2 linked regions of the Homo sapiens genome follow. The protein of the gene in region 1 purifies or fractionates together with the protein of each later gene. This does not show direct contact. Each region holds a gene or a part of one and is shown on either strand. Other genes may lie near its edges.

The links.
Region 2: the proteins of ABLIM2 (region 1) and ASXL2 purify together in Homo sapiens (affinity purification with mass spectrometry; one large-scale study listed by BioGRID and IntAct). This does not show direct contact.

What each region holds. Positions count from the first base shown.
Region 1 is NC_000004.12:7,970,314-7,973,813, reverse strand, and holds part of ABLIM2 (actin-binding LIM protein 2), read left to right. Parts: exon of another isoform or gene 1-860; intron 861-3,398; exon of another isoform or gene 3,399-3,500. UniProt on the Homo sapiens protein: May act as scaffold protein. May stimulate ABRA activity and ABRA-dependent SRF transcriptional activity.
Region 2 is NC_000002.12:25,742,172-25,746,185, forward strand, and holds part of ASXL2 (putative Polycomb group protein ASXL2), read right to left. Parts: intron 2,306-4,014; coding exon 1-2,305.

The sequences.
Region 1 (3,500 bases):
TCTCAGAACGCAAGGTGGATGGGTGGAAAGGGACTTGTTGTCTGGCCTGAGGCCCTCCCGGTCCATGGCTCGTGGATTCACACTCTGAGACCTTTCTGCTTGCTTGGCAGGGCAGGGCTTAGCAGGAAAACAACCCCGTAGCCACAGGAGTTTTTGTAAATTGCACACTTAGTCATAAATGCCATTGCTCTTAGGCTAAAAACCAAACTGCTTAACACGGTCCAGGGCCCTGCAGGGCCTATCCTGTCCTCACCTTTCCCGGCTCAGGTCCAGACACCTCAGCTTTCTTTTTTTTCTCTCTTTTTTTTTTTTCAAGACGTAGTCTCACTCTGTCACCCAGACTGGAGTGCAGTGGCACAATCTCAGCTTACTGCAACCTCCACCTCCTGGATTTAAGTGATTCTCCTGCCTCAGCCTCCCGGGTAGCTGGGACTACAGGCATGTACCACCACGCCTGGTTAATTTTTGTATTTTTAGTAGAGACGGGGTTTTGCCATGTTGGCCAGGCTGGTCACGAACTCCTGATCTACCCGTCTCAGCCCCCCAAACTGCTGGGATTACAGGCATGAGCCACTGTGCCCAGCCGACACCTCAGCTTTCTTATGCTTCCTCCAGCAGCCAAGGCTCCTCCTGCCCCAGGGCCTTTGCACATGCACTTTATTCTTCCTGGAATTCCTTTCCTACTTGCCATCCCTCACCCTACACACACACACACACACACACACACACACACACACAGCAAGGGGAGCAGCTCATTGCTGGAGTCCTGTGGTTTCTTGAACTGTCGTCTTCCAGGCCCTGAGGCCAAATGCACACCAGGGTTTGCTCAAGCAGTGAGAGCCCAAATTGTTGGAATGCGCCTGAAAAATAAGGGCCCCACAGTGAAAGAATATCTCCTTTGTTTAAACTCATCCAACTGGTCTGATGAGAGGGTGTGTCCTGGTAGACTGAGGGTGACAATAGGAGGTTTGGAGCCACATGGGTGTGTCTGAGAGATGGGTTTGCACCAGAATCCCAGCCTCCCTGGCCAAGACAAGGAAGAGAAACACAAGCAGAACTGTGTGGCTGGGAGAAAGCGTCGGGAGTCAGGAGAGTGGCAGGCAGAGGCCAAATGCAGGGGCCTCGTAGGCCAGGACAGTGGCGGGGGAGCCCCCGTGGCGCCACAGCAGAGAGCAGGACAGGCAGTGGAAGCTGGAGGTGTTGGGAGGCAGCACTGCAGAGGGGACAGCCCAGATTCAGATTCACAATGCAGACCAGACATCTTGTCCCTCAGTGAGGATGGGACAGTGCTGTGAGCAGACAGGCCTGTGCCCACCCTCATGGTGCTGAGAGCCAGAGAAGGTCAGCACTGACTCAGCCTTGAGGGACACAGCATAGCCCCAGGGCCTGCTTGGTGAGCGCAATCTAGGAGGGCCTCCAGGAGGAGGGGACACTTGAGTCAGGACCAGTAGGATGACGAAGAGCTGCTGGTGAATGGGAGAGGGAGCACTGCATGGTGCTTCCCCTGGGCTTTCACAGTACACCACGCAGCAGAGGAGTGGAGAAGAGGCGTGCAAGGCTGTGGAGGGGCAGGGCCCTGGGGCCACCTGACAGCCACGTCATTGCCCCGCTAAGCCGCTGTCCCCTCTGTGCCCCATAGGCTGTGGAAGAGGTCCCGGGGTATGGAGGGAAGGCTCTCCTGGAGGGGCAATGGCCACCGTCATTATGACAGTGATGTCACTGTAGGTCCTGCAGGGACCTCCTGCTGGGAGGGCTGGAGCTTCCGGGCCTGGGCCCGGCTTAAGCAAGACTCACCCCTGTATGCAGGGCCTCCTTGTGCAGGCCAAGGCAGTGTGAGCCGGTGGAATGCACCACGGAGCCCAGGCCTTGGGAGAAAAGTGGCCCCTTGCTGGCCCTGGGGGCCCAGGCTGAGCAGGGCTAGGACCTGAGGCCCACCCGGTCAGCCAGCCCTGTGCTGGTACAGAGGGGTGGCTGTGACTGGTGGGCTGTGTGGAGGAAGGAGGTGTCAGAGTCCCTCCCAGGGGTACCTCTGAGCTTGGTGGGGTCAGGGAAGCTGGGAGTACCCTGAGGGGACTTAGGGCTGGAGGTTGGTAGGGGGGTAGGCCAGGGCAACCTGTCCCTGATGGAGTGGAGGTGGCATAGGTCCCTGAGGCTTCACCGCAAACCTGAGATGGCCCTGGAGGTCCAGGTGGGAGGCAGGAAGTAAGGGTGGAGGAAAGGTCAAGCCACCTAACCTGGCTCCCAGGTCTGGCTCTGCCACTTCCTGGCTATGTGACCTTGGGCAAGTCACACAACCTCTCTGAGCCTGAGCCTCCTGAGGCAGTCCCCCTGCCATGCTGCAAAAATGCCTCCCTGCAGGATGTTCCCTGGGGAAACCAGTGCACCTCAGCAGTGAGGCTGCCCCACCCTCTGCAAAGACCCCCACCCCAGGCTTCCTTCCTTCCAGCTGTGCTTGTCCTGCGCGGGCCCTGGGGGTGAGGTGCACTCCTGCAGGGCCTTCAGGAACCTGGGGTCAGAGGAGCTGGCTTGAGGCCAGAAAGCTGGCCCAGTCTCTGGGGTCAGCTGGGCCTCACCCACCCTGCCTGCCCTGGCAGACCCATGGAGAAAGCCTGCCTGCCTCTGGCCCTGAGTGAGATTGAATGCCAGTTTTGCAGCTGGCCACAGAGTAAGGACCTTTGAGCCCCTCTCACCTAGGAGGCAGTGGAGACTCAGCCAGGTGAGGTGTGACACTCAGAATTCCACAGCTGGAGCCCAGAGTTATGAACAGACCCCCTGCTGCGGAGAGCCCCTCATGTGACCCTCACCCAGCCTTCCGGATACCCAGGCAACCAAGTTCTCTCACGCTGCAGACAGAAAACAGGACTGGAGCCTGCGGGGAGGTGGTCCCTGTCAGCCCCCTAGACCCCTGGCCCCAAGTCCTGGGCCCTGTAGGCCACATACGAGTGGCCTGGCCCAGCCCACATGCTCGGGACACCCCCGGCCCCTCCCTGTTGCTGTGGTCTGCCCAACCAGGCTGCTCCCCAGGGCCTCTGGTGATGGAGCGTCCCAGTCCCAGTGCCACACTCCCAGAGAAGGTAACCATTCCCAGCAACTTCAGAAGCCACCCAGATGCTCCCTCCACCGCCCCCCCACAGTCATCCCCAAGGGCACCTCTGCTTCCCACACCCACCTCCCAACACCCTGCCAGCCTTCCTGCTTGCCCGCCAGCTCCAAGTCTTCCTCGAATCGCCCTCCCCAGAGGCTCCCACAGCCTGGAGCACATGGTGTCATCCTCAAGCCTGCCCTTCTCTCCTTCCCCAGCATGCGGGGCACGCCTGCCCACCATCCGCTCCCTCTCCACTCCTCCCTCCTCCAGCAAAGACCTGATGCCAGCTAAACCCAAGAGACCACTCACTCACCAGTCCTCCTCCCTTTAAGTACACGATTGCAGATGGCAGGGGGCACACCACCCCCTTGACACCTTCCCTCTGCCCACCAGCACCTTTGCGCCCCTCCCTTAG
Region 2 (4,014 bases), on another chromosome or scaffold:
CGGAGAACGCCTGAACAGGAATGGTCTGGCCATGGCTGCTGGGATTCATAGCTTGGCTAGCAGGGATGGTAGTGACAGTCACTGAAAATGACATGACATCACCTACATTGCTAGATACCTGGCTACCTGGTACAGCAGAGTTATGGTCCATGTCAGATGAGGTGGAGACATTGATCATGCCTCTATAGCTTGGCCCTATCTGGGTGGGGCTTCCATACAACTTCGGGGTTTGCAGGGGTGGAAGGAGTAGGGGCTGGTGGGTGGGGCTGTCTGCAGGCAGAGGAAGAACAGTAGAACTGAAAAGCTCGGGGCTGCTACGGATTGCCTTACCTCTCACTGCATGAGCCATCTGCTTCTGTGCTGCCTGAATTAAATCTCTGGCTAGGGTCTTTTCATCAAATGTTTGGCCTCTAGTGAACAGGTAATTCTCCTTACTTAAAGTGGTTTGCTCATTCAATGGTATCTCAGCCTTCACATTCTTGCTAGCTAAGCAATCACTGGTAGATAGAGTTTCCCTGCTGTGAGGTCCTGAACTTGTGTCACCCTTGCCAGCACTCTGGGAAACCTGGGGCTCCTCTTTCACTGTGACAGATTCCTGCTCATCACCAGTACTTTCCTCATCAGTGTCATCTTCTTTGCTGCTGCTACTCTCTCCTGTTGCATTTTTACAGTCTGTATATCCCATTTTCAAGGCTTCAGTGGGGCTGCTTAGACAAAAACGATCTTCAGGGTTTACAGAATGGGTCCTCCTAAAGCTCTCTGAGCCCCGGCCGTAGGTAGAAATATTCAGTAAGTAGTGCCCTGCCATTGCAGGTTTGGATGTCCTTCTGCCAGCAAAACCCAGCATGAACCTCTGGCTTGTGGAGATGTCTTCCAGCTGGAAACCTGAGTGAGCGAAGTTGAACTGTGAGGGCGGCACAACTGAGAGAAGATTCTGCCTCCGAACCCTCTGAATGAGAGTCTGAAGGATCTGATCTTGGGTTGCTTTACTTAGTCCTTCGTGGTATTGGTGTGTGTCAATGCTGGAGTCCCTCAGCTCCTTAGCTGAAAAGAGCTGAAGGGGCCTTGGAACCTGGGGGAGCTGCTTACTTTGCAAGGTTTTGCCCAGCTGCTGCTGCGTAGCTGGATGGGACTGTCTCTCATTAACTTCCTCTCTGGTGCTATTTTCTGTTGTGTTGGTAGCTATGAGCGCTCCCATCCCCCTTTCCTCTTTTGCAGTCAGTGGAACCGTTTTCATTTCAACTTTGGTGAGAGGTTTAGGCAGAATTTGCTCCATGGGAACATCTTTGCCTTGAAGCAGCTGAGTCACTAAAGGATTATTAGCAGGGATACTAGAGGTTGGTCTTAAAGTGGGTCCATTCATGTTTAAAGAAGTTCCTGGGGTTTTAAGGCTAGAAGCTGCTGGCAAAGTGCTCGAGGGTGGAGCTGATCCAGCAGGTGCTGTAGTTGCACTGACCTGGGGTACAGGAAGCTTTTCTAAAGTGGCTGTGGTCAATAAAGATGTTAAAGGGGAGGGAGTTACAGCCACTGGCACACTAGCATCTGTCTTTGATGAGGCTGAAGGGTTAGGTATATTCTTACTAGGACCTGCTTTGAGCTCAACTGTGCCATCAGCTGCACAATGAACAGGTGAGGCACCTGAGATTAGAGCAGGACCTGTTGGAGAAGGTGCTTTCTCCTGTCTGCAACTACTGGGCCCTTGTGGATGGCTGACAGAGGCCACTGTGGCTGTTGCTCTGGTGGGGTTCAGTTTTTCATTATCCAATTTCTCTATGTGGGCTGGTGATGGGACACTTGTGCATGCTCCACTGACGGCAGGTGTTGGAGGCACTGGGGGGGTTTGCTGTAGTTGTGCTCCAGAGACACTATGAGGCTGTGCCTGGCTTGGGGTGGTCTTGGTCTCAGACTGGGGCTGAGTCTCTGGACCACAGGGTAAAAGCTCTCTCGTACCTCCCCTGCTTCCAGTTCCTGCCAGTTCCAGTGTGGGGCCCTTTCCAGTTTCACTGACTCTGTCTGAGCCTGGACTGCCTCCTCTAGCAGTCTGCCCTTCACCACCCTCTCCTGGACCTTGTCCACCCCCTGGGCCAGGTCCTGGAATGGTCCCTCCAACTGAGGCGGCTGCAGCAGCTGCGGCGGCAGCGGCAGCTGCTGCCCTCTGTGCTTTGACCAGTTGGGCTTTTGCTTTGATGTCTGCAAGAGTTCTGGCTCCTGTTCTGTTAGGACTAGTGATGGAGACTGGAAAACGAGCCCTGGGAGAGACCTGCGATGGATGAAACGGCATGGGGGAGATTCTGGAGACCGGGATCTGAAAGAAGTAGAGGGGAAAAAAACAACAGAGCTTAGTTTTCATTTGTAAGAATAACAAAACTTCATTAGCCCTCACATTTTAAAAACAGATGAACACTACAGTACCTGTGACAAACATGGGTGGTCTATGGCCGAGAGGCCAAACCTTGGAGACAGCAATACTAGTTTGTCTCTAGGGTCCTTGCATCCACTTTTTCTATTGGTGCCAAAGACGACTGCTTCCACTCTCACCCCAAATCCCCACACCTCTTTTCCTATCTCAACTCCCTCCTAATGCCACTATTACAAGTGCTTATTATGATACAAAGTTTTCTATGGTATTTGCATTTTTAAAAAGTGTATTTATGTTTGAGAAAGAAGAGAAAAGCAAGCAAGCCAGCCACCCATACCACTACTGTCTTTTAGTTCTTAGCTTTACTACCAAGGTCCAGGGGAAAATACTTGCTCTTCTCTGTTCCACACACACACACACACACACACACACACACACACACACACACACTTGGGCTGGATTATCTCAAATTACACAGGCTTCTAGACAGCACTGGAAGGAAGACAATGTGTGATCTATAGGAGCCCCCACCATGCCCATACACATAAAGGAGTATGTACATAATGTTTGCCAGCCATTCTCATCTCTGGCTGGTATTATATTTACTTGCGCAATTTTAAAATATATATGCTCTGGGTCCTATCCCAAAAAATTACAAATCAGAACCCCCAAGACCCTAGGAAGTCTTTTTTTTTTTTTTTAGATAGGGTCTTGCTCTGTCTCCCAGGCTGGAGTGTAGTGGTGTGATCTCGGCTCACTGCAACCTCAGTCTCCTGGGTTCAAGTGATTCTTGTGCGTCTGCCACCCGAGTAGCTGGGATTACAGGTGTGGGTCACCACGTCTGGCTAACTTTTGTATTTTTAGTAGAGATGGGGTTTCACCATGTTGGCTAGGCTAGTCTTGAACTCCTGACCTCTTGTGATATACCTGCCTCGGCCTCCCAAAGTGCTGGGATTACAGGCATGAGCCACAGCACCCAGCCTGAAAAAGCCTGGCCAACACAGTGACTCCAGAGGGAGCCTCCAGCTCAAAAAAAAAAAAAAAAAAAGTTTCTAAAAAGCTACTTGTGAGATTCTGATGTCTATCAGGTTTGAAACCATTGATTTCCTTCTTTTTTTTTTTTTTTTTTTTTTGAGACAGTCTCACTCTGTCACCCAGGCTGGAGTGCAGTGGCAGAATCTCAGCTCACTGTAACCTCTGCCTCCTGGGTTCAAGTGATTCTTGTGGCTCAGCCTCCCGAGTAGCTGGGATTACAGGTGCCTGCCACCACACCCAGCTAATTTTTTTGTATTTTTAGTAAAGATGGGGTTTCACCATGTTGGCCAGGATGGTCTCGAACTCCTGACTTCAAGTGATCCACCCACCTCGGCCTCCCAAAGTGCTGGGATTACAGGCGTGAGCCACCACGCCTGGCTGAAACCAATGATTTTCATACCATAAAATCATCATGTCTGAAACAAATCTGCCTTCTGTCCTGAACAATACTTTGAAAGCTATTAGAGTTACTAATAATTCAACAAGATGTGGACTCTTCTAGTAACTGGTTGAGTTTAAAGGAGCAAATAACTGTTAAGATGTTCTAAAGCATTTAATTAAAAAAAAATTAACCCACTAAACCCTAAGAAAATGCATGCCATTTTTCTTAATGTTTTTAA